Homo sapiens: one gene and its partners. The protein of the gene in region 1 purifies or fractionates together with the protein of each later gene. This does not show direct contact. Each region holds a gene or a part of one and is shown in the gene's direction. Other genes may lie near its edges.

What was found.
Region 2: the proteins of SLC38A8 (region 1) and TM9SF4 purify together in Homo sapiens (affinity purification with mass spectrometry; one large-scale study listed by BioGRID and IntAct). This does not show direct contact.
Region 3: the proteins of SLC38A8 (region 1) and DDX50 purify together in Homo sapiens (affinity purification with mass spectrometry; one large-scale study listed by BioGRID and IntAct). This does not show direct contact.
Region 4: the proteins of SLC38A8 (region 1) and FAAH purify together in Homo sapiens (affinity purification with mass spectrometry; one large-scale study listed by BioGRID and IntAct). This does not show direct contact.
Region 5: the proteins of SLC38A8 (region 1) and SURF4 purify together in Homo sapiens (affinity purification with mass spectrometry; one large-scale study listed by BioGRID and IntAct). This does not show direct contact.
Region 6: the proteins of SLC38A8 (region 1) and GBA2 purify together in Homo sapiens (affinity purification with mass spectrometry; one large-scale study listed by BioGRID and IntAct). This does not show direct contact.
Region 7: the proteins of SLC38A8 (region 1) and CDS1 purify together in Homo sapiens (affinity purification with mass spectrometry; one large-scale study listed by BioGRID and IntAct). This does not show direct contact.

Annotation. Positions count from the first base shown.
Region 1 is NC_000016.10:84,031,670-84,036,295, reverse strand, and holds part of SLC38A8 (solute carrier family 38 member 8), read left to right. Parts: intron 1-2,826; coding exon 2,827-2,968; intron 2,969-4,327; coding exon 4,328-4,429; intron 4,430-4,626. UniProt on the Homo sapiens protein: Electrogenic sodium-dependent amino acid transporter with a preference for L-glutamine, L-alanine, L-histidine, L-aspartate and L-arginine. May facilitate glutamine uptake in both excitatory and inhibitory neurons.
Region 2 is NC_000020.11:32,154,260-32,158,885, forward strand, and holds part of TM9SF4 (transmembrane 9 superfamily member 4 isoform 1 precursor), read left to right. Parts: intron 1-843; coding exon 844-927; intron 928-3,534; coding exon 3,535-3,710; intron 3,711-4,191; coding exon 4,192-4,255; intron 4,256-4,626. UniProt on the Homo sapiens protein: Associates with proteins harboring glycine-rich transmembrane domains and ensures their efficient localization to the cell surface.
Region 3 is NC_000010.11:68,939,315-68,942,814, forward strand, and holds part of DDX50 (ATP-dependent RNA helicase DDX50), read left to right. Parts: intron 1-1,745; coding exon 1,746-1,880; intron 1,881-3,500. UniProt on the Homo sapiens protein: ATP-dependent RNA helicase that may play a role in various aspects of RNA metabolism including pre-mRNA splicing or ribosomal RNA production.
Region 4 is NC_000001.11:46,407,443-46,412,068, forward strand, and holds part of FAAH (fatty-acid amide hydrolase 1), read left to right. Parts: intron 1-1,016; coding exon 1,017-1,142; intron 1,143-1,658; coding exon 1,659-1,756; intron 1,757-2,955; coding exon 2,956-3,055; intron 3,056-3,371; coding exon 3,372-3,412; intron 3,413-4,169; coding exon 4,170-4,209; intron 4,210-4,626. UniProt on the Homo sapiens protein: Catalyzes the hydrolysis of endogenous amidated lipids like the sleep-inducing lipid oleamide ((9Z)-octadecenamide), the endocannabinoid anandamide (N-(5Z,8Z,11Z,14Z-eicosatetraenoyl)-ethanolamine), as well as other fatty amides, to their corresponding fatty acids, thereby regulating the signaling functions of these molecules.
Region 5 is NC_000009.12:133,360,248-133,363,922, reverse strand, and holds the end of SURF4 (surfeit locus protein 4), read left to right. Parts: intron 1-163; coding exon 164-430; 3' UTR 431-447; coding exon of another isoform or gene 448-459; 3' UTR 460-2,459; downstream 2,460-3,675. Other genes in the region: SURF2 (surfeit locus protein 2), read right to left, coding at 2,784-2,867, 3,489-3,658. UniProt on the Homo sapiens protein: Endoplasmic reticulum cargo receptor that mediates the export of lipoproteins by recruiting cargos into COPII vesicles to facilitate their secretion.
Region 6 is NC_000009.12:35,742,327-35,746,952, reverse strand, and holds part of GBA2 (non-lysosomal glucosylceramidase), read left to right. Parts: intron 1-2,244; exon of another isoform or gene 2,245-2,246; coding exon 2,247-2,338; intron 2,339-2,540; coding exon 2,541-2,656; exon of another isoform or gene 2,657-2,734; intron 2,735-3,626; exon of another isoform or gene 3,627-3,660; coding exon of another isoform or gene 3,661-3,677; intron 3,678-4,626. UniProt on the Homo sapiens protein: Non-lysosomal glucosylceramidase that catalyzes the hydrolysis of glucosylceramides/GlcCers (such as beta-D-glucosyl-(1<->1')-N-acylsphing-4-enine) to free glucose and ceramides (such as N-acylsphing-4-enine).
Region 7 is NC_000004.12:84,634,663-84,639,288, forward strand, and holds part of CDS1 (phosphatidate cytidylyltransferase 1), read left to right. Parts: intron 1-601; coding exon 602-689; intron 690-4,261; coding exon 4,262-4,330; intron 4,331-4,626. UniProt on the Homo sapiens protein: Catalyzes the conversion of phosphatidic acid (PA) to CDP-diacylglycerol (CDP-DAG), an essential intermediate in the synthesis of phosphatidylglycerol, cardiolipin and phosphatidylinositol.

The DNA of each region.
Region 1 (4,626 bases):
TTAGCTGCATCTTGCCAATTTTCATATGTCCTATTTTCATTTTCACTGGACTCATTCCTCATGAATGGAAAATTTAAAATATTTGCTCCTTTTCACTGTGGTTTCTTTGACTTGTGAGATGTTTAGAATTGTAGTGTTTAATTGACAATTATTGAGGAGTTTTTTAGATTCCTTCACGGTTTCGACCTTAATTTGCATCATGGTCAGGGAGTCTGTATCATTGCTGTCTTTTGAGATCCAGTGAGACTGGCTCTGTAGTCCAGCACATGGTCTGTCTTGGAGAACACTTTGTGTGCTCTTCAGAGAATGTGTACTCTGCAGTTGCTGGGTACAGTGTGCTGGCAATGTCCATTAGGTCAAGGCAGTCAACAGCTGTGTTCAGATCGTCATTGCAACCATATTAATCTTTAGGTCTAGTTATTCTATTCCTAAGAGAAGGATGTTAAAGGATGTTAAAATCGCCAGCTGCGATTGCAGATTAGCCTATTCTGTCAAGCTTCATGGTTCGTGGTCTTTGAAACTCTAGGTATATCCTTTTATTATGAAGTATTCTTTATCTCTGGCATTAAATCTGTCTTCTCTACCATTAATAGAGGCACTCTAGCATCCTTAAGACTAGTGTTTGTATAGAAGTTCTCTTCTCATTCTTTGACTTAGAATCTAACTATGACTTGGATTATTTTTTTGTTAAATGTGTTTATATGTCCTTTTTGCAACACCAGCCTGAGAATGGCTTGGGATTTTAAAATGCATTTCTTGTAGGCAGCATATGGTCGGGTCTTGCTTTTTTATCCAACTTGACAGTCTCAGACTTCCGATTGGAATGTTTAGACTTTTAATTGGCATGTGATTGTTGATAGGGTGAAATTTAGTGTACCATTTTGCCATGTGTGTGTTCTGTGTGTCTCTTGACCCATGAAGCAAAAGGCCCCTGACTGGGGGGTATTGAGATTGAAGGCTGCTGTGTCTTGGTAAACACGACCTTATACCAAGAAGAAGTGAGATTGGCGTATCTGAACCTCTTAATGGGTAAGTGGGCACAAAAACGTCCTGCTCCCCCACAGTGGCAAGTAGAGTTCGTCTGCAGTTTCAACTCCACTGAACTGGTAGCGTTGCTGTGTTAAGAAGGATTCTGAGCCTCACTGGGAGCGGAGCCCCCTGACTAGTCAGAGGACGGATGAGGATACGGGCCACCCCAGGTCTGGGTTGATTGACTGTGGTGGAGAGAGCGTTCTTGTGTATATCTGGTTAGATATTTGGGGATGCCTCTCTGTAGGGAAGGCCAAGCTTCTGAGACGGAGTGCTAGATAGAGGTTGGAGTGCTTGGGGGAGTCATGGCACGAGGTACAATTGACCATGTCTTTGGTGCCAAAGATCTCAAGCATCCGGGAACGCTGGGTTTAGGAAGGAGCTGGTACAGTCCTGCTGTTGGCCCTGAGGATCCTGGCTATGGGAGGTCCAGATGCAGACAAAGGGCCTGCCCCATCCCACGCCACCTGGAGGTCTAAAACTCACCCACGATCTCGGTGCAGTCCTGGGGCATGTGCAGTCCCTTGGCATCTCGGCTCTCCCACGTGGATGCTGCTGTGACCACCTGCTTTTGGAACTTTCCCCTTCATCATTTCGTACGCTTGAGCTATTCTCACATGCATTCATTTTTTCACATGGCTCCCCTTGTTGAGTGAGAACAAAGAAGCACTTAAGACACCTCAGGGCCAACAACCCACCGAAGGAGCGAAGACATCTCAAGCTCCTCGGCCTCCCATCTCCAGTGGTTGCAGGGGCCACCTCACCCACCCAGGTGGTTCCCAGTGGCTCCCACCTCCAACCACCCTCCCACTCGCCTGTGCTTTCCCCTCCCCCATCTGTCTTACCTCTTAGATGGGTTCCAAATCATTCATCCCACTGTGGCAGAATAAAAATGGCCCCACATTCTTTGGTGTTCTTTCCACGGAGAGGTTAGTGGAGCTTGTGTCCCTTGCCTTTGAATTAGGTGTGCCTGGATGGCTTTGTCCAGCAATGTGTGGCAAATGAGACACTGCCCATTCTGGGTCTGGCCTTTAAGAGGACAGGCAGCTTCTGCCTCAGTCTCTGGGGTCCCCCAGCTGCCATGGAAGAAGTTGGAGGTGCCTGCTAGGTGGCCCATGTGGAGAGACTCCCAGACTGCAGGGAAGGCCCAGGTGTACCCATCAGGCAGTAGGTGTTGTGGGGAGCCATCAGGGTTCCTCCAGACCAGCCCCACTGCCAGCCAGAGACCCCCCAAGCAACCTCAGCCAATTCTATATGGAGGAGGATTGGCCAGCCTGGCCCTGTACTAACTCTCTACCTACGATCCATGACTTGTAATAAAGTGGTTTTGAGCCACTGCATTTGGGGTCATGTGTTCTGCTGCAACCATGAGGACCTACAATGCTCATGCACAGCAGCCTGTTGCTGACGGCACGGTGGCCAAAAATCGACTTCAGGCCCCCATTTGACTCCAGATACTATTGAGTTCCCGAACGAAACCAAAAGAGTCTTTCACCAGAATGTAAGGGGCACGAGGGCAGATGGCTTGTCTGGTCATCGCCTCATCTTGGGCCTTAGAGCAGTGCTGGGCTTGGGGAAGGAGCCCAGCGAATGTTTGTTGAATGAATTCATGTGTCAGGGTTTGTTCCTGCGTGGGGCACGTGACCTGTCTCCATCTCACTTGTCGTCTGATCCCTGGGCTCCTGGGGCTGGCTGAGGGTGGATGTCCAACCCCAGCCAGGGTTGAAGGGCCAGGTGGGAGCCGAGAACCCACGGCATTTGTACTCTGTGGCTCAGCTCTCCCCGTGTCTCTGGCAGTGTGTGACTCCCTCCTGTCTGGCACCCCGCCCGCCCCGCAGCCGTGGTACGCAGACCAGCGCTTCACCCTGCCCCTGCTCTCCGTGCTGGTCATCCTGCCCCTGTCTGCCCCGCGGGAGATCGCCTTCCAGAAATACACAAGGTAAGGGCTGGGATGCTGCCTGGTGGGGGCCCCCACCTTGCTGAGTGTTTGTGTCAGGGTTTCTGTCCATCTGGGGTCAGAGGAGCTGGGGAATTGGCCTTCACATTTGGAGAAGGGGAAAACGAAAAAAAAATTATACAAGTAAAATGTATGCATGATGCAAAACATAGATGAGCCTAAAGAAGAAAATGACCTGTAACAACGTCAGTGCTACTCAGTTTATTTCATTGTTGGATTTTTTGCACATGGCTGCAGAGAGAGAGAGACGCCTCCCCACAACACACACCTACCCACACCCACACATACACACCCACCTACCCACACCCCCCCATGCACACCCACCTACCCACACCCCCCCATGCACACCCACCTACCCACACCCACCCATGCACACCCACGTACCCACACCCACCCATGCTCACCCACCCACACATGCACCCCCATCCCCGCATGTCCCCGTGCCCATGCACGCACATGTGTGCACACACACAGAGGTTGTTTTTTTGTGGCTAAGGGTCTGTATACTTAGGAAGAAATAAAGCTTGGAAACAGTATCCATCTCCCTCTGCTGCCTGCCTTTTCCCTGTTGTGTATGAACAATAGACATTGTATAGAAACAGCAGGCAGCAAACCCGAGCCTCCCTCAGGTCTCTGCCCTGCAAGGCTCTCGTGCCACTCAGACCAAGCCAGGGGGCGGCTTGTCCCCTCTCAAGTGTGAGCGAGCCTGCTGGCGTCCTGCCTTAGGCATCAGGCTGAGTGGCTGATTAGCTTTTGCTGGTGGGAAGGAAACACTATTACAGCTGCCATCCCGAAGGGCGCCGGGTGCCATTAAGAATTCTACACATTTGGGCTGGGCGTCACACCTGTAATTCCAGCACTTTGGGAGGCCAAGGCAGGCAGATCACGAGGTCAGCAGTTCAAAACCAGCCTGACCAACACGGTGAAACCCTGTCTCTACTAAAAGTACAAAAATTAGCGAGGCGTGGGGGCGGACACCTGTAATCCCAGCTATTCGGGAGGCTGAGGCAGGAGAATTGCTTGAACCCGGGAGGCAGAGTTTGCAGTGAGCCAAGATTGCGCCACTGCACTCCAGCCTGGGCAACAGAGCGAGACTCCGTCTCAAAAAACAACAACAACAACAAAACAACAACAACAAAACTCTACATCTGACCCCTTGACCCCAAAGCAGCCCTGCCCCACATGCCCCCTGTACAGATGAGGATGGTGAGGCAGAGGTGGACAGCTTGGCCAGCACCTCATTGTCAAGGGCGGAGCTGGGATTCAGATCCCACTACTGTCCCCGTGCATCAACCGCACATGTCACCCACTGCGCAGCCCCTCACACGGTCACTGTGTTAGCATCCTAGGCACTCTGGCTGCCTGTTACCTGGCCCTGGTCATCACCGTGCAGTACTACCTCTGGCCCCAGGGCCTCGTGCGTGAGTCCCATCCTTCACTGAGGTAAGTCTGAGGGAACAGCTTCCGGCAGCCTCGGCGGGGAGGCACGGCAGGGGAGTCTGTGAGGGGAGTCTTGGAGGAGGAGCCTCTCGTGGCTCACTGCAGAGCCTGGGCTCCTTCCTTCCAGTTCTTTCCGTCTCTGATGCGGTGAAGGCAAGGGAGGGCCACTCTCCTTCTGCTGCAGGGACCTGGCCGTGGCT
Region 2 (4,626 bases), on another chromosome or scaffold:
TGTTTCAGCCTCCCAAGTAGCTGGGACCACAGGTGCGTACTACCACGCCTGGCTAATTTTTTGTAAAGACAGGGTTTCACCATGTTGCCCAGGCTGGTCTCAAACACCTGAGCTCAAGCGATTCTGGAGGTAATTTTTCTCCCCCTCAAAAAAAAAATTTTTTTACATATGTATATATTGGGTAGTTAACGTGTTCTTTTTTTCTTTTTTTTGAGACGGAATCTCGCTCTGTCGCGCAGGCTGGAGTGCAGTGGCACGATCTCTGCTCACTGCAACCTTTGCCTCCCGGGTTCAAGCAATTCTCCAGCCTCAGCCTCCCGAGTAGCTGAGACTACAGGCATGAGCCACCACACCGGCTATTTTTTGTATTTTTAGTAGAGACGGAGTTTCGCCATGTGGGCCAGGCTGGTCTCAAACTCCTGACCTCAGGTGATCCACCTACCTCGGCCTCCCAAAGTGCTGGGATTGCAGGCATGAGCCACCACGCCTGGCCAGAGTAGTTACCGTGTTCTCAGTGATGAGAGTACATCAGAGAACAAGGTAGACACACTCCTCCCAAGGAGCTCACAGTCTTTTGGGGATAGGCGGATATTGATCAGGTAGCCAAAATATGTAATTACGAACTGGGATGAGAGCAAGAAGGGGCAGTATTAGGGACCTGAGAGGGCATAGAACAGAGTCCTGCTCAGTCTGAGGGTCAGGGAATACTTTCTGGAAGGAATGATGCTTGAGCAGAGTCTGAAAGACAAGGAGGGCTTAAGAGCTTCTGGTCTGGGGGCCCCACCGGGACAGGTAGGGGAGGTCCCTGGATGCTGCTCCTCAACCCGGCCCCTCTTGCTCCAGACGGCAACTCTGTACCCTGGTGTGGTTTTTGGCATCTGCTTCGTATTGAATTGCTTCATTTGGGGAAAGCACTCATCAGGAGCGGTAAGTGCCTCCCCTACCCTTCCAGCCCCTCCCCAGCAAGCGAGGACCAGTTGCACTCAGCCCTACTCCCAAAAGCCACTTCCTGCCATTCCCTTCCCTTTTCTGAGTCCCCAGAGTTACGTTCCCAGCCATGAGGGCAGAGGGCCAGCTGGGGTTTCCCCAGCCCTGCCCTTGGTGTGTCATGCCCTGGCCCTGGCCTTCCTGTGAGATCTTTCAGTCAACTGACCCAAGCCCACTTCTCTAAAGGGAGGTTTCCACAGTCCAGCGGCCAACTGGGGAATTTCCCTTTGTCTTAACCAAGAGTGAGCTGCCCAGTGTGAGTTTATTAGGTCATTATCCCAAAGCAAGCCTGTCCTCCTCAGTGTCCCTGCCCCTCAGCACCAGCCCCTGCAGGTGGAGGAGAGAGGAAAGGAAGGATCAGGTTGTATTACCCTTAGAGCTGGGAATCCTGCCAGCCCCAGTCCAGTGTGTTACTAGCAGCTGTCCAAGACTCACTGAGGAGGATTTTGAACTCAGTTGTGGGGAGGGGGAGTGGGGTCTTGGTCAATTAGCAGGACTGCAGTTGAGATGTGGCAGGCATTTTGCTATCCTAGCCTTAGCACGTAGAGCCCTCTGCCCTCCACCTGGGGGTGGCGGTAAAGGTCCTTGCATGAGGCTTCACGTCCAGGCTTACAGAGGAGGGGTTTCTTTCCCAGCAACTTAGGAAGCCACCCTCAAGACACAGTCATGCCCTTCCTCTCACTTCACCTTTTTTATCCCTGTGTTCCTTCTCCCTTTGAGCATTTTCCTCCCAGTTACCAGCTGCTCATTATAAACATTCACTGTAGAAATTTTGGAAAGTGCAGAGAAGTTAAAGAAGAAATTTAAAATAACCCCAAATCTGCTCACCCAGAGATAAATACAATGTAGGTCTTTAATATATGTTGTCTTTTTTCCTTTTTATAGATATACTTACAAAAGAATTACATAATTTAAAATTTATAAAATAACAGCAAACATTTATATGATGCTTGCTTTGTAGTAATACTGTTCTAAACACTTTATATATATATTTCTTTTTATGTGATTCTTGTAAAAAGTAAGTGTAGAGAAGAGGATAAAGAAGAAAATGAAAAATCAGTTCTAATCCCCCATATCCCATCTAAGGAAGTATTGTTAGCTCTTTGGTATAGGCCTTTCCAGGCACAAATATAAATAGATACAGTTGTCCCTTGGTATTCATAGGGGATTGGTTCCAGGACCCCTGAAGATACCAAAATTCAAGGATGCTCGAGTCCCATATATAAAGTGGCATAGTGTTTACGTACACACATCCTGTATATTCTGACTCTTCTCTAGATTACTTAAAATACCTAATACAATGTAAATGCTATGTAAATAGTTGTTATACTATATTGTTTTTTAATTTGTATTGTTGTATTTTTTGTTTGTTTGTTTTGAGACAGGGTCTCACTCTGTTGCTCAGGCTGGAGTGCAGTGCTGTGGTCTCAGCTCACTGCAACCTCTGCCTCCCGGGCTCAAGTGGTCCTCCCACCTCAGCCCCACTGAGTAGCTGGGACTACAGGTGTCACCACCACACTCGGCAATTAAAAAAAAAAATTGTAGAGATACAGTCTCACTGTGTTGCCTAGGCTGGTCTCAAACTCCTGGGCTCAAGTGATCTGCCCACCTAGGCCTCCCAAAGTGCTGGGATTACAGGCGTGAGCCACTGTACCCAGCTTATTTTATTGTATTTTTTTTTTTCCTGGACATTTTCTTTTTTTTTTTTTTTGAGACGAAGTCTCACTCTCTCACTCTGTCACCCAGGCTGGAGTGGAGTGGCAAGGTCTCAGTTCACTGCAACCTCCACCTCCCAGGTTCAAATGATTCTCCTGCCTCAGCCTCCCAAGTAACTGGGATTACAGGTGCCCCCCACAGTGCCCGGCTAATTTTTTTTTTGTAATTTTAGTAGAGACTGGGTTTTACCATGTTGGCCAGGCTGATCTTGAACTCCTGACCTCAAGTGATCTGCCCACCTCAGCCTCCCAAACTGCTGGTATTACAGGCATGAGCCACTGCTCCCGGCCTTCCTGAACATTTTCTGTTTGCAGTTGATTAAATCCACAGATGCAGAACCCATGGATACAGAGGACCGACTATGTTGTGTTTTTATTAAAATGGAATCCTTCTATACACATAGTTTATAGCCTCCTTTTTACACTTAATAGTATATCATGTAGTTTTATTCTGACAAGATTGGGAGCACTTTGTACAGTGTTGTTTTTTCCCTTCTTTTCTTCACATAATGTGCCACATGTAATCTCTTCATTTTGACCTCTTCATCTCTTCACGTTCTCAGTCCACTCCTTCCTGTTCCTCCCCTACTTCCTCCCTGGATGGTGAGCTCCTCTGGGATGCTGAGGTGCCTTCTTCACTGGGAGTCCAGATCAGGGCTGGGGTCAGCCTCAAGAGATTCTGGCCAGGAGCCCTGTGGTGGGGGCAGGGAGTGTGCTTCTGCTGCACAAGTCGCCTCTCCTTCTGTGGAGCCCAGAAGGTCCCCTCCCCCTTGCGCAGCCCCCATCCCGGGCATCAGGGCCTCGTGGGGGCCTCATGGTGCCATGTCTACAGGTGCCCTTTCCCACCATGGTGGCTCTGCTGTGCATGTGGTTCGGGATCTCCCTGCCCCTCGTCTACTTGGGCTACTACTTCGGCTTCCGAAAGCAGCCATATGACAACCCTGTGCGCACCAACCAGATTCCCCGGCAGATCCCCGAGCAGCGGTGGTACATGAACCGATTTGTGGGGTGAGTCCTCCAGCAGAGGCAAGAGCAGGGGAACGTGGAAGAGGGTACGCCCCCCTCCGCCACCAGAAGGGTGCGGCAACCAGAGTTCCTGCCGCTTCAGCCGGCTCTAATAGAGTTTATGAAAGCTTAACTTCACTCCAAGATCAAGGTGACCAGGTTGTAGGCAGACTTGGTGTCATCCTAGGAACCAGGACAAGGAAGGGGAAGGATGGAAGGGTATAGTGAGACAGGTTAAGACCATCACTTGGACCTTGGGCAAGTCACCCCACCTCTCTGCACCCCAGTTGCCCATCTATAAAATGAGGAGAATAATGCCCACCCTGCCTACCTCTCAAGAGATTATAATAGTACAGAAATATGCCAGAAGAATTAGCACCACCACACTCGTGTAGGTGCTCTCTCTTCATGCCAGCTTGGGAAGGAGCTTGGGGCTTCCTGGTGGCCTGGTCTCTAACAATGTCAACCTCTCGTTCTGTGGCAGCATCCTCATGGCTGGGATCTTGCCCTTCGGCGCCATGTTCATCGAGCTCTTCTTCATCTTCAGTGTGAGTACTGGTGCCTCCCCCACCCCTCCACCCATGCTAGCCGGGTCACTCCCACTCCACTCGGGTGCTCTGCTGCCTACTGCCTGAGAAAGTTCAGATGGGCCACTTCACCTCTCGGAGCCCCATTCTTCACCCTGAAATTGGACAACAGCCTTCCCTCTCAGGGCAGCATTGAAAGTGAAATGAGGCTGGGCGCGGTGGCTCACACCTGTAATTTCAGCACTTTGGGAGGCCGAGGTGGGTGGATCACAAGGTCAGGAGTTCGAGACCAGCCTGTCCAATATGGTGAAACCCTGTCTCTACTAGAAAATACAAAAATTAGCCGGGCATGGTGGCACACGCCTGTAGTCCCAGCTACATGGGAGGCTGAG
Region 3 (3,500 bases), on another chromosome or scaffold:
TTTGAGCTAAGAAGTACCTAAGAAGTTATTTAGTCTCAACTCTCATCCAATGAAGAATCCCTCTTTGGCAGATGGGTCATTTAATCTCTGATTAAATATCTTAGAAACAGGGTGTTAGTGGCTTTAAATTTCTTTCATGGGTTAAACCAAAATCCAGTCTTTATCAGGAATGTCCTATAGGCTTTTCCTCTTGCTATCTTCTTGACGTCATGTCTTATCACTCTCCCCTTTCTTATTTCAGCCACCCTAACCTATTTGGTTTTCCTCAGACATAAACTTAACTATTACACAAGGCCTTTGTACATACTTTCATTGTCTTGAATGTTCTTCCCCTCTAATAACCATGTTGCTTCCTCCTTTACTTCATTCTGGTCTCTGCTCAAATATCATACCAGAGAGGTCTTTCTTGATCACTCTAAAATAGCTTACTCCTCCCTATACTCTTTGTTCCCTAAGCCCTGCTTTATTCCTGTTCGTGACGCTTATTACTATATGATATTCCATATATTTGCTTTTTTGTTTACTGTGTACCCCCCCACCCAACCCCACATACAGGTGTAGGTACATGCACATGCACTAGAATTTACTGTCCATGAGAGAAAGGACTACTTACTGCTGAATCTCTAGCACCTAGTACAGTCTGTGGCACATACGTAGGGCGCACTCAATAAATATTTGTTTGCTGAATGCATCCCCATATCTTCTTAATGTTGATTCTTTTGCTGTTAGTGAAGCTTTACAGAACAAATAATTTTTGCTTATGTAACACTCCTTCAAAAGTTTAAAGAAATTGTTCAGGCATGGTGGCTTATGCCTGTAATCCTAGCACTTTGGGAGGCTGAAGCAGGCAGATCACTTGAGTCCAGGGGTTCAAGACCAACCTGGGCAACCCCGTCTCTACTAAAAATACAAAAATTAGCACGGCATGGTGGCACGCACCTGTAGTTCCAGATGCTTGTGGGGCTGAGGTGAGAAGACTGCTTGAGCCCAGAAGGTTGAGGGTGCAGTGAGCTGAGATCGTGCCACTGCATTCCAACCTGGGTGACAGAGCGAGACCCTGTCTTAAAAAAAAAAAAAAAAGGTTAAAGAAATTTATGTTGTATTTACTTTTTATTTTTTTTTTGAGACAGGGTCTAGTTCTGTCACCCAGGCTGGAGTGCAGTGGTGCAATCTCGGCTCACTGCAACCTCTGCCTCCTGGGCTCCTGGGCTCAAGCCTCCCAAGTAGCTGGGACTGTAGGAGTAGGCCACCATGCCTGGCTAATTATTATTATTATTATTTTTGTAGCAATGGTTATTTCACCATGTTGCCCAGGCTGGTCTCAAACTCCTGGGCTCAAGTGACCCTCCCGCCTCGGTTTCCTAAAGTGCTGAGATTACAGGTGTGAGCCACCACACCCAGCCAAGGTTTTCGTTCCAAGCTGACTTTGACTCCTTCAACATTTCCTTAATTCTTCACTACCTTGTTGTCTTTCTTGGCTCTGGTTTGCTTAATTCTTAATTCTCTCTTAAAGCATAATGGTTAGAATTAAATAGAGTCTTACAGCAATACATAGGATAGTACTTTCAATTATCTATAAACACTATTCTTCTAATAATGTAGTTTCAAAAAAATTTTTTAGCTGCAATGTTATACTTTTGGCTCATAAGAAATGCACAGTTAAGTCTTGAAGGATTATAGAGTTAGAATTTCATTGTACTGCTGCTGATTTATTTCCAAACATAATGTGGTTTTTATTCCTTAAGGGGTTTGTGACCATGACTCTGGAAAGCCTAGAGGAAATACAGGATGTCAGCTGTGCTTGGAAAGAACTTAACAGAAAGCTGAGTAGTAATGCAGTGTCTCAGATTACCAGAATGTGCCTCCTGAAAGGAAATATGGTAGGCTTTTCCAGACAATTAAAAAGCTTTTTAATCAACTACCCCAAATGTTTACAAACACTAGCAAATTTTGTTCTTTCTCTTTGAAGCCTAATGGCATGAATAATGCTGTTTTTTCTCTGTTAGTTTGTTTCCAGTTATAAATTTGGGGCATTATATATGTAACCCATTCCTCCAGAGCTGTAAGTCATTCTGTTCAGTTTGACTATCTAATACCCAAATTATCTAAGTTTCTGCCACATACTGTATGTGGTTGTGTACATGTGTTTATTCTCTTTTTATTTTTTAAATTTTATTTATTTACGACTTTATAGTGATGAGGTCTCACTATTTGCCCAGGCTGGTCTTGAACTCTGGGGCTCAAGTGATCCTCCTACCTTGGACTCCCAAAGTACTGGGATTATAGGTGTGAGCCACTGCACCTGGCCTTTTTGTATTATTATTATTATTATTTTTATTTTTGAGACAGAGTTTCACTCTTGTCGCCCAGGCTAGAGTGCAATGGCACAATCTCGGCTCACTGCAACCTATGCCTCCTGGGTTCAAGCAGTTCTCCTGCCTCAGCCTCCTGAGTAGCTGAGATTACAGGTGCCCGCCACTATGCCCAGCTAATTTTTGTATTTTTAGTAGAGATGGGGTTTCAGCATGTTGGCCAGGCTGGTCTCGCACTCCTGACCTCAGGTGATCCTCCCGCTTCTGCCTCCCAAAGTGCTGGGATTACAGGCGTGAGCCACCATACCCTGTCCATGTTATTATTATTGTGATTATTATTTGGTAAAGATGGGATTTTGCCATGTTGCCCAGGCTGGTCTTGAACTCCTGAGCTCAAGGGATTCACCTGCCTCAGCCTCCCAAAGTGCTGGGATTACAGGCTTGAGCCACTGCACCTGGCATGTGTGTTTATTTTGTAAGACTAAGTAGCTTATGATTGCAGTAGTTAAACAGCTCTATAATTTTGAGGACATGCAGTTTGGTTTTTAAATGGCCTGCTCTTTGTTGTTAATGAATTAATGATATGAATTAAATAAATACTTTAATACATTTATATAGCAAAATTAAAACTGTAATCTTGTGACTGATTTCTTCTAATGGTTTTGAAAAATGATGTTATGTTATTAATTTAACTTTACTGCATAGGTTCATTCTAGCTTGGAATTTATTAACTAGATTGTTTATTGCAAATAATCATCTCTCTCAAAGTTTAATATTACTTGCCTTGTAAAAGGATGTGGGGCAAGTATGAGACAAATATATACTTTCAGGAAAAAAATGTAGAGGGGAGGGAAAAAATAGCAAGATCCATAGGCCAAACTAGTTGCTATACTTGAGTATTAAATTAACTTTCAGCTTATTGACAACTAAGACCATAGAAGAAACATCTTGGGTTATATAATTCTTATTATCTAACAAACATTGCAGCTTTTTTCTTTTTTTTTTGAGACAGGGTCTCACCCTGTCACCCAGGCTGGAGTGCAGTGGCGTGATCTTAGCTCACTGCCACCTCCGCCTCCCAGGCCCAAGCGATCCTCCCACCTCAGCCTCCTGAGTAGCTGGGACTACAGTCATGCATCACCACACCTGGATAATTTTTGCATTTTTTTTGTAGAGATGGAGTTTTCC
Region 4 (4,626 bases), on another chromosome or scaffold:
GAATCGGAAGGTTATTTGTGTTATGTGTGTTATTTGGAGGAGGTGGGGGAGTGGCCAGTGGTCATCTTCCTCCCAGCTCATCCCCTACTGCGGGGCATCTGAGACCAGTATTTTGCTCTCTTGAGTGTTCTGGTTGTGCTCTGGTCCTGGTACTCTCTCTCTCTCTGTCTCTGTGTGCGTTGGGGTTGAAGGCCAGAAACAGCCAGGTTGAGGCTGGGGCCAGATGTCCCCAGTGAGGCAGGTGCTGGGCCCTAGGTCATCCTCTGTGCCCACTCCAACAGAGTGCAGGAGCTGTAAAGTTAGATTGGTGCAGACAGAGGAAGAGTGAAGTCACGTTAATGTAGACAGTAAGCTGTGTGACGTAAGCCCCGTTTCTCAGCAGTCCAGCGATTGTCTATCTTGTACAGACCTCTTGCCCTCGCCCCAGCCAAGGTTGCCTTGGAAAGGCTGAGGGTTTGTGGACGGGAAGGAGAGTGGGCCTTGGTGTTTCTTGGGAGTGGGGCAGCAGGGCAGATCTGGGCTGGGTAGGGTGAACTCCCCCTCCCCAGGCAGAGGGAGATATTCTAACCGAACCCACGGGGATAGGCAGCCGTGAAGTCCTTCCTCGGAGGAGAGGAGGAGATGAGGTCCCTGTCTGGAAGTCTGGAACAGTTTATCATGAGAGCCAGGACAGGTGGTGGAGAGCCTCAGCTCAGAAGACAGGATGCCTGCATTCCAGACCTGTCTTGTCACTCTGCATTGGGTAGCTTTGGGCAAGTCCCAGTCCCACCTAATCTCCCTATTGAGACCTCAAGCCTCAGTTTCCTCATATGACCAGTAGGAATCCTTATCCTTGCTCTGCCCACCTGAGTCACTGTGAAGGTGTTTTATGAAAGGGTCAGATGCAGAAGGGGCTGGCCTCGCTGACTGCAGCCTCGCAGCTGTGTCTGGGGCTGAGTAGTTTCTCTGATCTCTAGGGGTCCTGCCTAGGGTTGTCTTCTCCTGACCTGCCCCTGTCCCCTGTGTTTTCCCTCCAGGTCTACACCAGCTCTCAGCCCCTGCGTGTGGGGTACTATGAGACTGACAACTATACCATGCCCTCCCCGGCCATGAGGCGGGCCGTGCTGGAGACCAAACAGAGCCTTGAGGCTGCGGGGCACACGGTATGACTGCAGGGTCCTGGAAGTACTGGCATCTCCTCCCCTCACGGGAAGCCTTCCTGGTACCCATGGCTACTCCATCCCTGGCATCCTGGCACTCTGACGATGTTGTCGTCGGGGTGAACTGTGACCCTGTGGGACAAGTATATAGAGGGCTGATCAAGAGTATTGGAGTGAGTGATTGATGGAGAACTTTAGCCCTGTGCTGTGTGATGTGTGAGCACTGCATGTGGGGAGGCTCTTCAGCTCTAAACAGTGGTGCACAGCTGTCCAGAGGCTCCCAGGGCCAGTGGGTTTTGGTCTGGTCATTACACAACTTTATGTGTGGCTCCAGACTTCTCTCATGCTGTGCATTCCACAGTGAGTTTTCATGGGTCAGTAAGGCTGCCTTTGTAGCTCTAGTGAGAGCTATCTTGTGGGCAGGGTTGGTCCAATCCATCCTCAGGGCCGCCCAGACAGCATGGGGATCATGAAGCCAGTTGTTAGGTCAGGAGGCCTTACACCCCTCAATCCCTGCAGCTGGTTCCCTTCTTGCCAAGCAACATACCCCATGCTCTGGAGACCCTGTCAACAGGTGGGCTCTTCAGTGATGGTGGCCACACCTTCCTACAGAACTTGTGAGTGATAGTGGGCTTTGGGGTCTTGGTGGGATCAGACAAGTAGGCAGACCTGGGGGAGCAGCAGGGTGTGGTGATGCCTGGATGGGCCTTAGCTGAATCCAACAAAGGCCTGAGCACTCTGGGCAGGGACCTCGCTGTCCCTCCAGCTGGGCACATTGAGCCTGGAGATCCCTTGCCAGGGTGCCAGCCCGAGGGGAGGCTGGGTTGAGTATCTGTGGCCTACCCCTGATCTGAGCTTGTTGTGAGGTAGGAGGTGGGCAGGAGGTTGCCTCTCTGTTTGGGAAGGATTTGGGCCAAGGGCAGGATCCAGGCAGGAGGGTGGGGGTTTGGACTTGATGCTGTGACTCCAGGCTCTGTCTGACTTGAGCCAAGTCTTCTTTTTGAGCAGGACCTCAGCTTTCTCTCCTGTAAAGTGGGTGGGTTGGACCAGACTCCCTTTAAGGGACTTTGCAGAGCTCATTTTTAGAGAAGTTCGTTCCTCTGGGATGCTTCTAGTCATTAAAGGTGTCAGGGGCAGAGAACAGGCCTGCAAAGGTGCCTCCTGGTGACATACCTCTGCTGGATGGACTGGAACCCTTCAGAACACAGTCCCCCTTCCTCCACTTCACTGATGGAGAACTTGGCCCTGCAGCCTGGAGCTTGGCCCTGCAGCTTCACTCAGTCAAGGGCCCAGCCTGTCATGTTCCTTTCCTTCCCCTAGCAGCCAAGTGTGGTCCAGGCTTCAGTGGAAGGGGTCACTCCTCACTCTGGCCCTGGGAATGAGTCCCCAGGATCAGCTGCCTGAGACCTTTCCCTGAGATCTTGAGCCAGAGATAGCCTCAGAGCCCTGCTTCATGGGCAGCCCACCCTCGATTTCCCCACCTGTGCCTCCAGGCTGTACCTCCCTAAGGGGAGGTACCCTCAGGGAGGCCTCATCAGGGAGATGTTGCCCTCAGTTCTTAGAGCTCTGAGCTGGGTTTGCTGGAGAGGGATACCCTGAGTCCTGCCTTGGGGAGCTCCCGTGGATGTGGGTTGCAGCCCAGGCATCCCAAAGGATCAGCAGAAACAAACGGCATGTTTGGAAGGAGGGAGCTGAGTCTGGTGAGGAGGAGGTGGACAGGATCCCTGCATAGAGAATGGGATTGCTGTGGGCCGGGCGAGCAAGCTGGGAAGGATGTGGGGATGGGAGTGCCTGGACCGAGCATTTTGTTTCCCAGCAAAGGTGATTTCGTGGACCCCTGCCTGGGGGACCTGGTCTCAATTCTGAAGCTTCCCCAATGGCTTAAAGGACTGCTGGCCTTCCTGGTGAAGCCTCTGGTGAGGGCACAAGGAGTGGAGGGGCTAGGATGGCTGGGGGGGAACCTAGGGCCTCCTATCGCATGATCCCCCATGGCCTCCCTCAGCCTCTCTTGGTTTGGGCAGGCATGGCCTCCTCTTCTCTCCAGTCCCCACCCAGACTGCTCTCCTCCTCTGTCCCCTGCGATCTTCAGCCAACCCGCATGCTGAAAGGGGTGCCGACCTGGGCCCTGGGGGGAGGCATGGAGGGAGGGGTCCCCAGTGGCTTGGCCTGAAGAAGGTTGACGTCTGCCGTGGCCCAGAGCTGAGTCACCGACCCTGCGTCTGTCCTGTGCAGCTGCCAAGGCTGTCAGCTTTCCTCAGCAACATGAAGTCTCGGTAAGGGTTCTTCTGTGTCTAGCTGCCGGCCCCTGCCTGTCCTGATCCGAGTCTGGGTCTGGGTAGTTTCTGACAGGAAAGGACTTGAGGGAAGTAGCCTCTGAGGCTGGAAGTGGCCCAGGCAGGGGGGCAACCTTTGTGGCCTTCAGATGGGACTTTGAAGTTGTCTTGGCAAGGTCCAGTTCTGGCTGGAGAGCAAAGGCCTGAGGGGGACAAGAGGATGGGGGAGTTGGAGGGGAGGAGGTTGACCTGGCTGGGGCATGAGTGGAAAGGACCAGGAAGTGGGGGTTGGCCTGGGCCAAGGGTGGGGCACCCGGGAGAGATGCCACTGTTAGAGATCTGAGCTGACCTGAGCTGCGCCAGGCCCTACTTGCCCCTTAGTGGCTGGGGCTGGAAAAGCAGGGCGTAAACCTCCCTGTTTCATGCCCTGACGTCCCATGGACTCACTCCTTCCCTTACCACCAGGCTTCAGGACTGGCAGCAGCTATGGCCTCTCCCGTGTCCTGAGGGTAGCGAGGAATCGGGCCTGGGCTAGTCCTGGCTCTGCTGTGGAGTCACCAAGTGCCAGCCTGTGCCCCTCTGGGGCCTGATTTTCTCATCCAGACAGTAGGGGTTTGAACTTCCCTCTCAGAGCTCCCATGGGGTTGTGAAGGGTCCACGGAGGGGTGAGATCTAGAGGGTTGGCAGTAGGGGTCTGATGTTGCTGATCTCCGTGGCTGTGACCATCATGGCTGGTGACCACACTCCTTCTGCCCAGTTCGGCTGGAAAACTCTGGGAACTGCAGCACGAGATCGAGGTGAGGCCAGAGCCTCTGGATTGGAGCAGGGTGGTGGGGGGAGGGTGGAGTTGGACAGGGTACCCGCTAGCAGTGTCTCGTGGCCACTGCCCCCATGGGGCTCCTAGACTGGCCTGTCATCCCCCTTCCACTCCCTGGACCACCACTTGGGCCCAGCTCTCTGACCCTTACTTGCCTAGATGCCCATCCTTTGAGGCTGGGTCAGCCCCAGGCTCCTGTCCTGGCCGCCTTTTTGCCCCTCTGGAGCTGCCTTTGTGTGGCTCCGCCTCAGCGGGAAGAGGTGTATCCACAATTCATTCTGGAGGCAGAACGACTGATGCCCTCTGAGAGGCAGCACTGCCTGCCCGGAGGACCTGTGTCCCACTGTGGCTCTGTTCAGATCCAGGGGCAGGTGCTGGGGCCAGAGCCACCCCAGCC
Region 5 (3,675 bases), on another chromosome or scaffold:
CTTTGGCTTTTATCTCCCTACTTGCACCAGCAGCCGTCTCAGCAGTAGCTACATCAGCCTGATGGATAGAGACTTCATGACGTGCAGCAGCTGGAACTTTTGTTTATAAAGCATCTCTTTTCCTCACATTTATTTTGAATTTCTTACGTTTCAACCTATGCAGATTGTCCAGAACATCGTGGGCACAGCTCTGATGATTTTAGTGGCCATTGGTTTTAAAACCAAGCTGGCTGCTTTGACTCTTGTTGTGTGGCTCTTTGCCATCAACGTATATTTCAACGCCTTCTGGACCATTCCAGTCTACAAGCCCATGCATGACTTCCTGAAATACGACTTCTTCCAGACCATGTCGGTGATTGGGGGCTTGCTCCTGGTGGTGGCCCTGGGCCCTGGGGGTGTCTCCATGGATGAGAAGAAGAAGGAGTGGTAACAGTCACAGATCCCTACCTGCCTGGCTAAGACCCGTGGCCGTCAAGGACTGGTTCGGGGTGGATTCAACAAAACTGCCAGCTTTTATGTATCCTCTTCCCTTCCCCTCCCTTGGTAAAGGCACAGATGTTTTGAGAACTTTATTTGCAGAGACACCTGAGAATCGATGGCTCAGTCTGCTCTGGAGCCACAGTCTGGCGTCTGACCCTTCAGTGCAGGCCAGCCTGGCAGCTGGAAGCCTCCCCCACGCCGAGGCTTTGGAGTGAACAGCCCGCTTGGCTGTGGCATCTCAGTCCTATTTTTGAGTTTTTTTGTGGGGGTACAGGAGGGGGCCTTCAAGCTGTACTGTGAGCAGACGCATTGGTATTATCATTCAAAGCAGTCTCCCTCTTATTTGTAAGTTTACATTTTTAGCGGAAACTACTAAATTATTTTGGGTGGTTCAGCCAAACCTCAAAACAGTTAATCTCCCTGGTTTAAAATCACACCAGTGGCTTTGATGTTGTTTCTGCCCCGCATTGTATTTTATAGGAATAGTGAAAACATTTAGGGACACCCAAAGAATGATGCAGTATTAAAGGGGTGGTAGAAGCTGCTGTTTATGATAAAAGTCATCGGTCAGAAAATCAGCTTGGATTGGTGCCAAGTGTTTTATTGGGTAACACCCTGGGAGTTTTAGTAGCTTGAGGCAAGGTGGAGGGGCAAGAAGTCCTTGGGGAAGCTGCTGGTCTGGGTGCTGCTGGCCTCCAAGCTGGCAGTGGGAAGGGCTAGTGAGACCACACAGGGGTAGCCCCAGCAGCAGCACCCTGCAAGCCAGCCTGGCCAGCTGCTCAGACCAGCTTGCAGAGCCGCAGCCGCTGTGGGCAGGGGGTGTGGCAGGAGCTCCCAGCACTGGAGACCCACGGACTCAACCCAGTTACCTCACATGGGGCCTTTTCTGAGCAAGGTCTCGAAAGCGCAGGCCGCCCTGGCTGAGCAGCACCGCCCTTTCCCAGCTGCACTCGCCCTGTGGACAGCCCCGACACACCACTTTCCTGAGGCTGTCGCTCACTCAGATTGTCCGTTTGCTATGCCGAATGCAGCCAAAATTCCTTTTTACAATTTGTGATGCCTTACCGATTTGATCTTAATCCTGTATTTAAAGTTTTCTAACACTGCCTTATACTGTGTTTCTCTTTTTGGGGGAGCTTAACTGCTTGTTGCTCCCTGTCGTCTGCACCATAGTAAATGCCACAAGGGTAGTCGAACACCTCTCTGGCCCCTAGACCTATCTGGGGACAGGCTGGCTCAGCCTGTCTCCAGGGCTGCTGCGGCCCAGCCCCGAGCCTGCCTCCCTCTTGGCCTCTCATCCATTGGCTCTGCAGGGCAGGGGTGAGGCAGGTTTCTGCTCATAAGTGCTTTTGGAAGTCACCTACCTTTTTAACACAGCCGAACTAGTCCCAACGCGTTTGCAAATATTCCCCTGGTAGCCTACTTCCTTACCCCCGAATATTGGTAAGATCGAGCAATGGCTTCAGGACATGGGTTCTCTTCTCCTGTGATCATTCAAGTGCTCACTGCATGAAGACTGGCTTGTCTCAGTGTTTCAACCTCACCAGGGCTGTCTCTTGGTCCACACCTCGCTCCCTGTTAGTGCCGTATGACAGCCCCCATCAAATGACCTTGGCCAAGTCACGGTTTCTCTGTGGTCAAGGTTGGTTGGCTGATTGGTGGAAAGTAGGGTGGACCAAAGGAGGCCACGTGAGCAGTCAGCACCAGTTCTGCACCAGCAGCGCCTCCGTCCTAGTGGGTGTTCCTGTTTCTCCTGGCCCTGGGTGGGCTAGGGCCTGATTCGGGAAGATGCCTTTGCAGGGAGGGGAGGATAAGTGGGATCTACCAATTGATTCTGGCAAAACAATTTCTAAGATTTTTTTGCTTTATGTGGGAAACAGATCTAAATCTCATTTTATGCTGTATTTTATATCTTAGTTGTGTTTGAAAACGTTTTGATTTTTGGAAACACATCAAAATAAATAATGGCGTTTGTTGTATGCAGTGTGATCCTATAGCGTTGCCCAGCCTGAATGGGGCTCCCCTCAGGATGCCAGTGAGCGAGGTTACTTCTCTAGGCTTCTCTGAAGACCACTCAGAAGCCATGTCCAGAGAGAATTAGTCCCTCAGAGTCCCTGCTGCTTCCTGGGTGTGGGGGACAGACTCCCTCAGCCCTGCCTTAGAGGGCAGCAGATGTCATGAGACAAGGATAAGTGGGTAGAGAAGACACTGGGGACAGCCGATCATTCAGAGGACACACGGTTTGATCAGGAGCGGGGGAAATATCTGAAGGCTTTCTCGAAACTTCACGGCATGTGCTTTTATTAACCTGGCTGTTTACAGGAGCTGAAGCTCTTGGGTTTGCGGTGATGACTCTTGAACTTCTTTTTCAACGAGCCCAACTGCTTCTGTGGGATAAACAAAATTCTGATTACTGAGCCTTTCTGATCCCATGGAGAAGGGGCCCTGGAGTGCAGGGCTCTCCCCACCCACACAGCCTCAGAGGTGTCGGTCAAATACCCACAGAGGCTTTCTCCACCCCCGTTTCCTTAACAGCTGCAGGATTAGACCCCGCTCAGCAGGGCCTCAGAGGAGTACAGTGCAATGCCACACACTCATTAGGACCTTGTCCTCTTTTGGCCTTGGTCCTGCTTATCTACCAAAGGCGGGGAAGTCTCCACTCCTGCCCTGATGGCAAAGGCAAAGGTGGTGGCTAGTAATCAGGTCCCTGTGCCCAGGGGTAAGGACAAACACGCCACAGCTCATAGTCTGAGGTAGGAGGGTGTCCTCACAAACCAGTGGTCTTGACCGTGGTCCACAGAGCCTGGCTTCCACAAGGGGCTGGCTGGGAAGCAATGGTAGGCACTCACGGCCTTCCGCCAGCCAGCGGCCTCGGCTTCTATGGTTCTTGTGTGTTGTTGGCTTGGGATTTCACTTGTGAAAAAGGTTCAGTTTTCTTTTTTTAAACAAATGGAAAACCATCACTAGGGGAAGCCACTGCCACACTAACAGAGGAGGTGACAGCTCACCTTCCCGCGCTTCTGGACCAGCCCTCGGTACACGGTCGTCTCTCTCCTGCCCTCATCAGTGGCCTTCTCTCTTGGGGGCTTTGCCTTCTCATCCTCTTTGTCTGTCAAAAAGTCATCAGTGCCATCCCCATCCTCCGTGCTTCCAAGGTCCTTTCTGGTGAATAGCTCAGCTGGGAGGAACACAGGG
Region 6 (4,626 bases), on another chromosome or scaffold:
GACCAGGAGCTCTAGCAAGACAGAATTCTCTGGGTCTTACCTTCGTAAGAACTCAATTTCAATTGTTCTCCCTTCCAGCCAGAGTCCACTCATTCAATAAATATTTATTGAGTGCTTGTTCCATGCCAGATAGTCCTTTGTTCTGTCTGTCCTCATAGATTGCAGTTACTCTCCCTGGTTGCCCTAATCCTCGGCCACACCCTCCCTCTACCAGTCCTTTCTGGTCTCTAGTTTCAAAGTCCGGTTTTCTCTAAGCTGGCAGAGAGGATTCTCTGCCTTCCTGTCATCCCATCCTTTGTCTTCCCTCTTCTTTCCACCCCTAGAATGTGCTGTCCCTTTTTATTTTATTATTATTTTTTTTTTGAGACAGTCTTGCTCTTGTCACCCAGGCTGGAGTACAATGGTGCAATCTCAGCTCAGTGCAACCTCCGTCTCCTGGGTTCAAGCGATTCTCCTGCCTCAGCCTCCTGAGTAGCTGGGATTGCAGGTGCCTGCCACCACAGCTGGCTAATGTTTTTGTATTTTTAGTAGAGACGGGGTTTCACCACATTGGCCAGGCTGGTCTTGAACTCCTGACCTCACGTGATCCGCCCACCTCGGCCTCTCAAAGTGCTGGGATTACAGGTGTGAGCCACCGTGCCTGGCCGCTGTCCCTATTCATTAATCACATTTCTTCTCCTCTGCTCCAGTCTGTTATCTCTCTTGTGCCCCATCATTTGTATGTTCATTCATCTGTAAAATTGGCAAATATGCATTGACTGCAGACCATATGTCCTACCCTGTGCTTGGACCTGAGGGTAATATTCAGCTAGTCTTTGTCATTGTCCCTTTCCCCAAGGAACTTAAAAGTATGTCAGCCTCACATGAGGAACATTGAAATAACAAGGCAATGTCTGATTAGGAATTGAGATAACAGTTTGTATATATGAGTAATAATCATACCTGTACTTTATGGCTTTCTTATCTATTATGTCATTTGATCTTTCAACCATTTCATTAGATAGCTAGAGCAGGTGGTATCCCCATTTTGTAGATGAGGAAACTGGGACTTAGGGGTTACTTACCCAATTATTTGGTTAGAAGTGGTGTGACTGAACAGTAGGCATAATGTGGCAGTAGGCAGGAGAGTGGAAATGGGAAAGAGTCTGGCAGGGCAGGGGCTACTTAGTGAGGACCCATCTGGAATGAGAATTTGTAGGAAATAAGATTAGAAGATAGGCTGGGACAGATGTCAGAGCCTTGAAAACAGAATCGTTTGCCTATTGAAAACAGCCTCAATCATTTGCCTCTTGGATATAGGGCTGTACCAAGCCCAGGAAAATGTTGGGATTTTTTGAAGGCTTTACCAAGAGCAAAATCAGAAAGCTTCACAGTTTAAATGTTGAATTTAAAAAAAAAAAAAAAAAAGGCTTGAGAGGAAATGTCCAGAAATAAATATAAACACTGATTGTCTATGGGTGAGATTATTTTTTTCCCCCTTTCACCTTTCATAATTAGAAAGAAAAATGATCATTTTAAAAAGAAGAAAGGCCAGAAGCGGTAGCTCACGCCTCTAATCCCAGCACTTTGGGAGGCCGAGGCGGGCGGATCACCTGAGGTCAGGAGTTCAAGACCAGCCTGGCTAACATGGTGAAACCCCATCTCTACTAAAAACACAAAAAAATGTGCCAGGCATGGTGGCGGGCACCTGTAATCCCAGCTACTTGGGAGGCTGAGGCAGAAGAATTTCTTGAACTTGGGAGGCGGAGTTTGCAGTGAGCCAAGACCGAGCCACTGCACTCCAGCCTGGACAACAAGGAACGAAACTCTGTCTCAAAAAAAAAATAATAAATAATAAAAATAAAGATAAGAAAGTTATTCCCAGCAGCCTATGCCTGTTTTGGAGGTAGGGGATTGGGGGCGGAGGCTGTAGGCCAGGAAACCATAAATGGTCCTTTCAGCACGTCAGACAGAAGCTCCTGATGTTGGAAATAAAGCAGTGGTGGTGGTGCTAGAGAGGTAAGGAGAGATCAGAAAGCCCCTTCTGAGGAGAACAAAGGAGAGAAACAAAGCCACTCCTTCACTTCAGCTGGGGTGACTGGGAAGATGAAGGGACCTTGAACTGTATAGAAATCAAGAGGAAGAAAGGTTTGAAAGCAGATGTCCTTGGGACATTTAATGGGAGGTCACAGAGAGAGGCAGGTGACTCAGCCTGTGAACAGCTGCCCACCTGCCCCCTTCCACTCACATTGCCTCTTGCTCCTCAGGTACCTGCAGTGGTGGTACCGGAAGACCCATGTGGAAAAGAAGACACCTTTCATCGACATGATCAATTCTGTACCCCTAAGACAGATTTATGGTGAGCCCCACCCCATCTCTGCTCTGCTCAGAGAAGGCCTAGCCTCCAGGTCTACCACAGTTAGGAAGAGACTTCCAGCTTATGCAAATTGCACTGTTCCATCCCCTAGGTTTTCAGAGGAACCAGGCTTTATAGTCTAGAAAGTTAGAAATGGGCTTATTTTCCTCTCCCAATACCCCACTAACCACCCTGATTTCTCTAGGTTGTCCCTTGGGTGGCATCGGGGGAGGCACTATTACCCGTGGCTGGAGAGGCCAGTTCTGTCGTTGGCAGCTTAACCCTGGAATGTATCAGCACCGGACAGTCATCGCTGACCAAGTAAGAGCCAGGAGGTGGAGAGGCCAGGACAATACCTCCCCAGGCCAAGAAGGAAGGACCTCTTGGCTAGTGTAGAAGGTAGCAGTTAGATGTGAATAAGATTCAATCTAATAAGTACTCTCGGGATGCTTCCTGTGTGCCCAGCCCTGAGCTAGGATATACCGTAGGAATAAGACACACACAAGCACACATTCCTTGAAAGAGTAAACAGATCTGGCATTTCTCTAGTAAATGCCTCCTGTCTACCTCACTGCCCCAACCCAACTAGCTGAGGCAGCCCCCAACCACAGAGAATGCAGAGAATTCCCAAATCACTTAACCTGCCTGAAAGAACATTTTGTAGGACTGGAAGGGAAAAGAAAACCCAAAGTCTATAAACTCATGGGAAAAAAAGACACGTAGTACAAGGTTCCTCACCCTGATTGAGGAACCTTCACCAAAGTTCAGCTCCTCTGCTGATCACTCCCCTGGAGGTCTCCTGGCTTAGGGTCTAAAAAGCTCCTTCTCTCCCAGGCTTAGATCTCTAGCCTTCTTCCCTCTTCTGAAGCTTCACTTTTTTCCTTTTGCTCCTGCATCACATCTGGGCCTTAAATTGCCAGAAGTATGTGTCCTGCCTCTCATCATCTCTCTCTAGTTGACCGCCCCTTTAGAGTTGCCTAGGAAGTTCCTCTTTCTTGGCTCCAGCATTCAGCCTCATCTTCAAAGGAAAAATGACTAGCAAATCTTTAGTCCAATTAATGACAATACCCTTCCTGGTTCACGTTTACCAGCCCTGCCCATGTCCCAAGATCCCTCTCTGCCTCATCCCTTAGGTATCCTGAGGGGAATGGCTTCCAGAATTGTGACTCTACAATTAAAGTAATTATTGCATGCTTAACATGTGCTAGACACTGTGCTAGGCTCTTTGTATACTGTTTAATATTAAAAACAATCCTACAAGGGAAGTACCACTATTATGCTCATTTTGCAGATGAGGACACTAAGATCCAGAGAGGTTTAGTAACATGCGCAAGGTCACAAGGTTGGTAAATGGAAAGGTTGGGATTCAGAACCATTTCTTTCTGGGGTGAAGAGCTTGTGGTCTTAACCATTATGTACCATTCCAACAAAATGAAAAATTATTTTATACAGTTGTCCCTCAGTATCCATGGGGGGTTGGGCCCAGGACCTGCTATCCGAGGATGCTCAAGTCTTTGATTTGAAATGGCTTATAGTATTTGCAAATAACCATTGCACATCCTCCTATATACTTTAAATCATCTGTAGATTACTTATAATACCTCATACATTGTTACATAAACCCTTGTTGTGCCGTACAGTAAATAAAGTGTGTACATATTCGGTACAGACACAACTTTTTTTCCACATATTTTAGATTTGGTTGGTTGAATCCACTGATGTGGAACTCACAGATATGGAGAGCCCACTGTATACAATAAAAATATTTGACATAGTTTGAACCAGGGAAAGGGATATTAATCCCTCATAGCTCCTACCCTCCAAGAGCTAAAACTTTTTTTGAGAAAATAAGACTTAGGGGAAATGGAGACTGTGAGACCACATCAGTGCTAAAAGGAGAGGGGTGGATAGTATACTGTGGAAAAAGGGACGGTGCTGCAGATTTCGCTCATTCCCTCCACATACATGCCAACTCTGAAGAAGGGTGCATCAGTGAATTAAAAAATGTCCCTACCCTCAGAAGAATCCATACAGCAGTCAGGGACACAGAATGGTCAGTCAATACATTATAACATAATACACCAAATGCTAGAATAGAAGGGGAGGGGGGCACACATAATGACTCACTGCTGGAAGAAGTAGAGGAGGAAGAGATGGCTTTTGACCTAGGCTTTGAAGGATGAGAGGTTTCACCAGATAGCGAACAAGCATGAGCACAGGCATGGAGGAGAGAATGTAGTGTGCTCAAGGAACAGTGAGTGTTTTTATATGAACAGACTATAGGTGCTTGA
Region 7 (4,626 bases), on another chromosome or scaffold:
GTGTGTCTCTGTGTGTATGTGCGTGTGTAAAGTAATTGGAATCATTTTAAGATTGTCTTTCATGTATTGTACAGACTTTTCATTGATGGGGCAGTTACTGAAGTAAGTAGGTTCTGTACATTCAGTAGGGTTTACTGAAATCATAAGCTAAGATAGAATTAAAATTAATAATTGAGAATATGTATTAAGAGCTTGATATAAATTTATCAGATTATGTTCTGTCTAAAGAAATGACTCATTTTCATATTAAAAGGCTGGTTTTCTTAAGATTAGCTTTCAGTCTGCCTTTTATTTTTTATTGTAACATGTTCCTCATAAAACTAAAATGAAAACATCCATAACTGTAGAAATCAATAATTTAATATTTTCCTAGCATGCTAGTTTATTTTTAGATTTTGCTCTGTTTAAATTGGTAAGTGGGCAAATTTGGTTGATATTTATCATTTCTACTGTTTTGGCAAGTGTTATGTTCTGGGTAGGCTGCAGTGCAATCCAAAGGGTTATTCTGATGGTTCATTATGAATCATAACCTTTCCGAATATCTGCCACTTACTCAGGTGAACTTTTTTCTGCTGACTTTTTTTTTTTTTTTTAAAAACAGGTTCCTTGTTCCAATATCAAGTGTTATCTGCAATGACATAACTGCTTACCTTTTTGGATTTTTTTTTGGGAGAACTCCATTAATTAAGGTAATGGAAAAATTTTATAAGCAAGCCACTATGTAACCTTAAAGATTAGCCACTGGAGAACATTTCCAACAACTGTGCTGTTGTGCATTTTTTATTTTTGAGGTGCTTTGATTTTCCTTAGCTGCATGGTGCAGAAGCAGCAAACCATATTTCTCAGTACTTCCATCTGGGTTCTTCATCAGCTCTTCTGTTGGCTCCTCAGGAAGGGCATGACTCCATCAGTCTGCCTGCCTGCCTGCCTGCCTGCCTGCCTGCCTGCCTGCCTGCCTGCCTGCCTTCCTTCCTTCCTTCCTTCCTTCCTTCCTTCCTTCCTTCCTTCCTTCCTTCCTTCCTTCCTTCCCTCCTTCCCTCCCTCCCTCCCTCCCTCCCTTTTCATCTTCATTTTATCTTTATGTGGTTTCTTTTCTTTCCTTTTTTTTTTTGAAGATGGGGTCTTGCTTTGCCACCCAGGCTGGAGTACAGTGGTGCTACCATGGCTCACTGCAGCTTCCACCTCCCAGGCTCTAGCAATCTTCCCACCTCAGCCTCCCGAGTAGCTGGGGCTTCAGGTGCATGCCACCACACCCGGCTAATTTTTGTATTTTTGGTAGAGACAGAGTCTTGCCATGTTGTTCAGGCTTGTCCCAAACTCCTAGGCTCAAGCAGTCTGCCCATTTCAGCCTCCCAAAGTACTGGGATTAAAGGCGTGAGCCACCGCCCCTGGGCTCTGTGGTTTTTTCTCTCGGCCATTGGTGCAGTTCTTCTTTATCCTCCTTTCCAGCAAGCCTATACACAAGCCTTTTCCTTGACTCTCCTCTCCCTTCAACCTGTCGCCTTACCTGTCCCCTCCTTTACCAAACTTTCTCAAAGAAGAGATTATATAATACACCTTCACATCCTCATATCCATTTGTGTGACTTTTCATATCCAAACTCATACCAAAAGAAGATTTTGGGGCCCTACAATAAAATACTAATAAAATACAAGTAATAATGAAAGGGAAAGGAAAATACACATGAGTAGACCATGTTGTTTTGCTATAGAATTGGTTCTATTTATGGGCAATGGTAAAGAAGGAAATGAACTAAATTACATAGTTCTCATTTGGGAGAAGAAATAAACTAATTCTTCATGGAAATCAAATCATTTTCTAGAACTGATTTCTTCTAAAAGAGCTCTTCTTTATTTTTGTTTAGTTTTTATTCGTTTTTGGAGACAAAGTCTCGCCCTGTCACCCAGTCTGTAGTGCAGTGGCGCAATCTGGGTTCACTGCAACCTCCGCCTCCTGGGTTCAAGTGATTCTCCTGCCTCAGCCTCCCAAGTATCTGGGATTACAGGCGGCTGCCACCATGCCTGGTTAATTTTAGTATTTTTAGTAGAGACAGGGTTTCACCATGTTGGCCAGGCTGGTCTAGAACTCCTGACCTCGAATGATCTACCTACCTCGGCCTCTGAAAGTGCTGGGATTACAGGCGTGAGCCACCACACCCGGCCTAAAAGAGCTTTTCATGTTGGAGTTTCAGATAAGATTCACACATTTCACATTATTGGGCAAAGTTTTTAATAATGTTCTCACAGACATATTATTACCTGGCTGTTTTGATATTGTTATATGAATGCAGTTTTGGAAGGACTGAGACAATTGTTCAGATATAAAGCCTTCTGTTTGTTCAGAGTGGTATGAGGGTAGTTTAGTATTACCAGAGGAATTTGTGGACTGCCTGTTCTTCCAAAAACCTCTGTAAACTCTTCCCCTCTTGGGGAGGAGCTCACAGAGAGCACCTGCTGAAAGCATCAGCACACAGAGAGTGTTGGGCTGAGCTGTATAAGGATACTGGTAAGCAAGCTGTATATTTTTAAAACGTTTCTAAAGCTGCTCCAGAGTTTCTAAAGCTTGAATACATGATTTACGTATTCAAGAGTTCTACCCAGACTGAGAAGTTTTCGGCTTGGGAAGCTGTATTAGTTCATTCTCACACTGCTATAAAGAAATGCCAGAGCTTTAATTGGCTTATGGTTCTGCAAGCTGTACAGGAAGCATGGCTGGGGAGGCCTCAGGAAACTTATGATCTTGGCGGAAGGGGAAGCAGGCACATCTTATATGGTCAGAGCAGGAGGAAGAGGGAGAGTGAGGAGGTGCCACAGACTTTTCAACAACCAGATATCATGAGAACTCATGGGACAGCAATAGGGGGATGGTGCTTAACCATTAGAAACCCCCTCCCTGACCCAGTCACTTCCCACCAGGCCCCACCTCCGACACTGAGGATTACAAGTGGACGTGACATTTGGGTGGAGACACAGATCCAAACCATATCAGAAGCCTTCAAAAAGGCTGTTATAGCTGTGGAAGAATATTAGCAACTGATTTTGAACACAGCCTTCTAGTGAATTTATCAGGCTGGATTAATTGTATAATATACTTAGATAATTGAACAGTTAACCCCTAAATCGATATGATATGCATCAATTTAATTTGATAAGCTATCTTTACAATAATCAGCAGGCACTTTTGAATTTGAGTCTGCTCCTACTTCATGGCAGTGATAGTGAATTACCCTAGGAGAAGGTGTGTCTGTCCCTTCTCTGTGGCAGAATTGTTATCAGATTTGTCAAGAAACCATTTCTGCCAACTGTTTTGGTTTGGGGCTTTATGAATATCAGGACAAGAAGTCTATGAAGAGCTCCTATAGGTTAACCCATAACCCATTTTAATACTTCAGAGACTTTATTCTGATATTTGGTTTCTGTCCCTCATTAATGACCTGATGACCAAATCCTCCCACACATCACAGTCTTTATCTCCCCTGAGCAACAACTTTCACTTTTTGCTCCTGAATCTTTTCCTCCTGCCCCAACACCACTAACTTCTAGATTTTTTTCCAGATTTCTTTCCATGAATGGTCCATTGACTGGGCAGCAATAGCCTGAATCCAACACAAACAATATCTCTTCTTTGAAGTGCAGCATGTTCCTTTCTTCTTGGAAATGGACATAGATTGTGAAAAAAGAGAGGATATGTCAATACTTGAGCAAATACAGTATCTGGGGCTCTGGAGTATTTTGCCATATCAGAAGGAAGTCTGTGTGTATATAGCATATTAGGAATATGTGAAAATTATATGTGCTAAAATGTCCATGTTTTGTTGTACTGATTCTATTTTTGGCCAATAGCAGGTCAATACTGACTGTGTGTACTTGGAATGAATACGTCTCATTCTTATTCCAAGAACTTACACCAACTATTATCAGGTTTTATATTAGCATAAGAGTCATGGGACAGTTATTTTAGTATAGAGTTTATACTCTTTTGAGAGACAGAACAAATTTAGACCATTTAACATGAACAAACACATATTCACAGCATTTCAAATATTTGAGGGCCTACTATGTGTTTAAATATTATTAGAGAGATTTTCACTAGTAAATCAAGATCAGAGAAAAGGAAAAAGGGTTTTGAACTATTCCAATAAGAGAAAAAGTAAGGAGAGATGTACAAGTTATTGAGGAAATAGTTTATATATATATATATATATATATTGTGAGTTTTGTGAGTGCAGTAAAGCTTTTTAATTTTATTTGCCCTTTTTTAGTTGTCTCCTAAAAAGACTTGGGAAGGATTCATTGGTGGTTTCTTTTCCACAGTTGTGTTTGGATTCATTGTGAGTATTACTAAGATTTTTATTTTGTATACATTTCGAAATATGATACCAAGCTTACTGGTCTAATTTTAAACCTAGAAAAATTAAACCACAAAATGCTAATAATATATTTATTGAAACCTACTGAAAAGAACCAGTTCTGTACCTCAGCAGCCCTTATCCTGGCTACATATAGAATCACCTGAGAAGCTTAAACAAAATCTATGTCTCAGCCTTATCCCAGGCCAGTTAACACCCCCAGGTAATTCTAATGGCCATCCATGCTGTCTTGCTGACTTGCTGACTTACTGTTGTGC